Regions from separate parts of the Homo sapiens genome. Here region 2 is linked to region 1. Evidence: fine-mapped expression QTL. A gene starts in region 1. The other region holds a variant in brackets. All regions are shown on one strand. Distances are between the middles of the regions. Region 1 holds the start of KIAA0586. Region 2 overlaps ARID4A (AT-rich interaction domain 4A).

The links. PIP is the estimated chance that this variant, and not a neighbour inherited with it, causes the effect. A credible set is the group of variants that fine-mapping cannot tell apart.
Region 2: its variant is the best candidate, but not a certain one, in a credible set for the expression of KIAA0586 in tibial nerve (GTEx, PIP 0.69).

What each region holds. Positions count from the first base shown.
Region 1 is chr14:58,426,292-58,429,213 of GRCh38, forward strand. It overlaps KIAA0586, which reads left to right and starts at 1,428. Exons shown (of 31, transcript NM_001329943.3): 1 at 1,428-2,172. The coding sequence starts at 1,974. It overlaps TIMM9 (translocase of inner mitochondrial membrane 9), which reads right to left and starts at 1,240. Exons shown (of 6, transcript NM_012460.4): 1 at 1,101-1,240; 2 at 763-951. RefSeq lists enhancers at 1-375, 1,390-1,439, 1,510-1,699.
Region 2 is chr14:58,373,756-58,376,677 of GRCh38, forward strand. ARID4A (AT-rich interaction domain 4A) reads left to right here. Exons shown (of 24, transcript NM_002892.4): 24 at 1-121. The region is part of intron 1 of TOMM20L-DT (TOMM20L divergent transcript); the gene reads right to left. Among named protein-coding and RNA genes, the nearest start is that of TOMM20L-DT, 20 kb to the right of the region's middle. The variant T/C (reference allele first, on the strand shown) is at 1,522.

The DNA of each region.
Region 1 (2,922 bases):
ACCTGCCGGGTTCAAGCAATTCTCTTGCCTCAGCCTCCTGAGTAGCTGGGACTACAGGCGCGCGCCACCATGCCCAGTTAATTTTTTGTATTTTCAGTAGAGGCGGGGTTTCACCTTGCTGGCCAGGCTGGTCTCGAACTCCTGATCTCGTGATCCGCCCGCCTTGGCCTCCCAAAGTGCTGGGATTACAGGCGTGAGCCACCGCGCTCAGACTTTAAAGTCCATTTTAAGTCTAGACTTCTATGAAGGTAGACTGCCGAGATGTAAAAGAAATAAAATTAGTTATTTAGCTTTTAGATCGGATTACATTTTCTGCTTTGATTATTCTAAAGCCTCCAGTAAGGCGTAAAGGGAAAGCTCTAAGTAGCGCATCCTGGGAAATGAGCAGATCAGGGAAGGGGTGTTAGACCTGGTATTATGTCTAAAGACGATTTTCATTTAAAGGAGGATCTTCCCCCGGGCAGCTCAAGGTCACATCGTAAATACCTTATAGTCTAATTCAGTGTCCCAAAACAGGACCCCGACTCCCCAGATCCGGGTTGGGGGTGGCTCAGGGCCTAAAGTTCCTACCCTCGCCCAGGTGACACCATCTCCAGGAAGGTCTGCACCCGACCCGGCGAAGCGCTGTCCCGCTTCGCACCCCCCACTGCTCCAGGTACGTGCGGCGGCCTCCTCGGGAGACCCCGCCACTTTCCTGGAGCGTAGCCTGCCACCCCCCGTCCGGGAACCCCGGATTCTCACGGCAGAGAACAGACACCATACTTAAGCACAGGCTCTCGCATCCGACATCAGTACAAGGCTGGGGGTTGTTGGGGGACGGTTGAGCCTTGGGAGGGAGGGTCAGGGTCTGGACAGGAGCCGCGGCCGCCAGATGGGAAAGAACACGTGGGAGCAGTAATGTCAAGTGACACTTAAACCCTTAGACGCCGATTCGTTATAACGCGAGGAAATCTAGAAGAAAAAGCAGGTACCATCAGCGAATTCTAAAATCTCCTAAGGATTAACTTCGGTTATTTTCTGCTTAGACAACGCTTTCTATTCCCGACTTCCTCTCCAATAATGACCCGAATCTGTCGAAACTTCTTGGAAGCCTAATTTACCTAATCCCACGTCCCTAACGGTCTTCGGAAGCGAAGCAGTGTCAACAGTCCCTGGTAAACACAAGTAGTATTACAAGTCGGGAGCTCTTCAAGTCTTGGATGAGACTGTAGAGCGGTCTTGTGCGGCAATGTGCTACCTTAAAATAAATAAATAAATAAACCCCTGTTATGTCCGGAGTTTGTTTCCACCCGGAGAGGAATGGAAGAGCACCAGAGAGCGCTTAGCTTTCTGGTTGGATGTTTTGGGTGAGTTTCTTGGCGCGCATGCGTGTTGTGTCTCAAGGGCGGGTTTGAAGGGAAGTGGGTGTTGACCTGCGGGCAACTGACGCTGTTGTCAGATTACACCCACGACGGTGCGGGTCTCGGGCGTTCTGGAGATACGTAGGGGTGAATTTATGTTTCCGACGATTGCATCTGGAGGGGTGTGTAAGACTCTGTGGCTGAAGAAAGCTATTACGCTTCTTATGTGGGTCATTATTTTAAAAATAGCATTTCGCTTTTATTTGCTTGACTGCCTCTTCTCAACAAATTTTAAGCCCGCCACTACATGTGTTTGGTTTTGCCCTACCAGCTCTGGGGTTGGGGAGTGCACTGTTATGGTTATTGTTGCTCCTGTGGCCATTCTCTTGTCATCCCCACTTTCACATTTTGGCGTGGTGTATTAATAGACTGAGTGGGATTAATGGGTAAATATGACTTTATAGTCAGCTCTAATCCTGGATTCAATATCAGAATTTAGATTTTCAGCTTTGTGGATGTTCGACATTTTAAAAACAGTTATTGCAAAGAGGTGAAAATTTTGTTCTGAAGTCTTAAGGAAACAGAGAAAGTTTTTCCGTCCTTAAGTGTGGGACTTGTTTTGTGACCAACAATATGAAAGGCTCTGAGGTCAGCTTGGAGAAGAAAAAAAAGATTAAGATGCCAGTGAAGAGACTTCGTGAGGTAGTTTCTCAAAATCATGGAGATCATTTGGTTTTGCTGAAAGATGAGTTGCCCTGTGTTCCTCCGGCATTGTCTGCAAATAAACGTCTTCCTGTTGGAACGGGGACTAGTTTGAATGGAACATCACGTGGTATGTGATTCCATGTAGTTTTTCAACCAGTTTTAGTTTAGTAAATCTTTAGTCCTTATTTGTTTAAATTCCCAAACGTAAGATATAAGTCTAGTTTGTACAGATGTTTGAAAACTGACCCTGTTTCCCGGGAAAATGGCCAGGAAGCCTATAAAATGTTTGAATAGATGGAATGAATGAAACTTTAACGTCCCCTGTTGTGCTTTTTTTTTTTTTTTTTGCATTGACTTTTGCATATTTTTTTTTTTATATTTATGGTGGATACACTTAACTTGTATAATGTGCTTTATTTTCCCCCACGTAGTGTTTTTTATAGTTTTCCCCCAAAGTAGTGCTTTTTACCTAATTCACTACTTTCTTTTCATAGTGGGAAAAGCAGGACTTCTGCCAATTGATGGCTTCTATATTCCAATTCACTTAATCTGTCTAGAGCTCAGTGAAAATAAGGATAACATATGCTTTACCCACTTCGCTGCTAATTGTGAGGATTAAATTAATGAATATGTGAGCAAAAACAGCAAAACGCTTTTGTAATGCTGTTCTTTGGGGGATACAGCGGTGACACTCAAATAGTACTGCTGTTAAATTAGACCTTTACATCGTATACATATTTCTACCCATAGTTTGTCCACATCCAATAGTGTATGGTTATATTTTAAAATGTTTCGTGCTTAATCTCACTTTATTGTCAGTACCGAACCTTATTTTCCCAAATATCAACTGTAAAAACTTTCATTCAGATATGTTTAA
Region 2 (2,922 bases), 53 kb before region 1:
TTTAAGTGATTGCTTTTTTCCTAAGTGCTTGTAACTTACAGTTGGAAAATCAGATTTCACAAAACCAAGCATTTTAGTATATTCAGCCTTTACAATAAAATATTTCTACTAATTATAAAAATGAAAAAAAAAGTGTCATTTAAATCCATTTGGACCTAGGAGGCAACCTTAGATTTATACATTAAATATTTTAATGATTTCCTTCTGTAGCAATTCAATAAATGTGAGATAAATAAGTTATCAGCTTGAGTACTGTCCCTTCTAATTGATACAAATTTGGTCATGAAGTATTGGGATGTTGCTACAAAGAGCAAAACTGTGTATTCATTGAATAGATACACACTGTTAAAATCCTTTCATTTGGAGGCTGGAAAGGATTATGAAATTAAGTGAATATTGACTAAGTATGACATTTCAAATATTGAGCATATTTTGAGTTTAGGTAAACTTTGAATAGATACCTCTTAAATGTAACTAAGAAAGTAAAAATATAGGCTGGGTGCGGTGGCTCATACCTGTAATCCCAGCATCTTGGGAGGCAGAGGCAGGCGGATCACAAGGTTAAGAGATTGAGACCATCCTGACCAATATGGTGAAACCCCATCTCTGCTAAAAATACAAAAATTAGCTGGGCGTGGTGGCACGTGCTTATAGTCCCAGCTACTCAGGAGGCTGAGGCAGGAGAATCACTTGAACCCGGGAGACAGAGGTTGCAGTGAGCCCAGATCACACCACTGCACTTCAACCTGATGACAGAGCAAGACTCTGTCTAAAAAAAAAAAAAAAAAAAAAAAAAGTAAAAATATAAAGACACTCTAATATAATGCAAGTTGCCATCTGTAAAATCAAGTTATTTAAAAGATTATGGTGCTTTCTGTTTTAGTATTGCATTGTGTGCTTTTATGTATTTCAATTTTTGAAACAGGGTCTTGCTCTGTCACCTAGGCTGGAGTGTAGTGGTGTGAACACAGCTCACTTCAGCCTTGACCTCGTGGGCTCAAGCCATCCTCCCACCTCAGCCTCTTGAGTAGCTGGGACTACAGGCATGTGCCACCACACCTGGCTAATTTTTAAATTTTTTGTAGAGACAGGGTCTTGCTGTGTTGCCCAGGCTGGTCTTGAACTCCTGGGCTCAAGCGATCCTTCTGCCTCGGCCTCCCAAAGTGCAAGGATTATAGGTGTGAGTCATTGTGCCCAGCTGGACATTGTGTGCTTTTATTGTTTGTTATTTTGTGTTAAATTTCTAGTTTTCCTCTCTTTCACTAAGAAAGATGGTTGCACTTAGCATATTAAAAGACTACTACATACTATGCCTTCTATGAAATTGCTTTAAGTTATGAAAATCTATGTGGATTGCCCAGTTAATTTGCTTACATACCTTTCTTATAAGCCCTGTAATTTTTTTTTTTTTTTTTTTTTTTTTTTTTTTTTTTTTTTTTTTGACGGAGTCTTGCTCTGTTGCCCAGGCTGGAATGTAGTGGCGCGATCTCCACTCATTGCAAGCTCCGCCTCCCGGGTTCA[T/C]GCCATTTTCCTGCTTCAGCCTCCTGAGTAGCTGGGACTACAGGCACCCACCACCACGCCCGGCTAATTTTTTGTATTTTTAGTAGAGACGGGGTTTCACCGTGTTAGCCAGGATGTTCTCAATCTCCTGACCTTGTGATCCGCCCGCCTCAGCCTCCCAAAGTGCTGGGATTACAGGCGTGAGCCACCGCGCCCAGCCTTAAGCCCTGTAATTTAACATAGCTATCAAGAGTGTGAAAGCATTCAAAGCTATATTCAACCATATATAAAACCAATTAACAGAATTCATTCATTGATGATTTATTTAGTATCTTCTATGTGCCAGGCATAAGCTTAAGGCCCAGGAGCCACAACGGTGAACAAGACAGAATAAAGTCCTTCTCTTCATGGAATGTATAATCACGGTGTAATAATATGGTAGATGTAAACAGTTAACTCATGTAATTATTATTTTTTTATTACAGTCTCTGCTTATCCAAACTCATGTAATTCTTAAGTGCAGGTATAATAAGCATATGAAGTTATGGTGTGCAATGAGATAATGATAGAGAGCCCACTAGTTTGAAGGCAGGGGTGGTATGGGAAGGCTTTGCAGAGAAAGCAACAAGAAAACTGAACTCCAGTGAAGATTATGAATTGGCTGGGGAAGTAGAAGGAGAGATATGGAGAGTATAGTGTTCCAGGGACATGGGGGAGGGGAGATTGATAGAAATGGTCCAGGTAATGAGCCAGGGCAAGAGTAGACCTGATGCAGGATAGGAGTCAAGTAGGACTGAGAGTGGTAGGGGAACAGGAGCAAAAAGGACAGGTGGTCAAGGTTTGAGCAGTTCCCTACCACTCTCAACCCTGCTTGTCCAGAGGTGTCTCAAGAGCCACTTTTCCATGAAGCTTTTGCTGACTTCTCACTACAACCAGAATAGTGCCCTCTTTTATGCTCTGATAGCTTTTCAGTCTGTATTATTTTACTTGACAATTTACCTGATGTTTACTTGTGCATGTGTGTTTCTATCCTACTAGATGATTGAGTTCTTAAAGCCAGACATTTGTTTGTTTGTTTTGTTTTTTAGTAGAGACAGGGTTTCACCACATTGGCCAGGCTGGTTTCAAACTCTTGACCTCAAGTGATCCACCCGCCTTGGCCACCCAAGTGCTGGGATTACAGGTGTGAGCCACGGCGCCTGGCCTAAAGCCAGACATTTAAAAGAGGTCTTTAGGGTTATTATTATTATTATTTTGAGACAGGGTCTTACGTTTGACTACTGTCACCCAGGCTTGAGTGCAGGGGTGCAATCATGGCTCATTGCAGCCTCTATTTCCCTGGCTCAGGTGATTCTCCCACCTCAGCCTTCCAAGTAGCTGGAACTACAGGTGTTCATCACTTTGCCTGGTTAATTTTTTTAT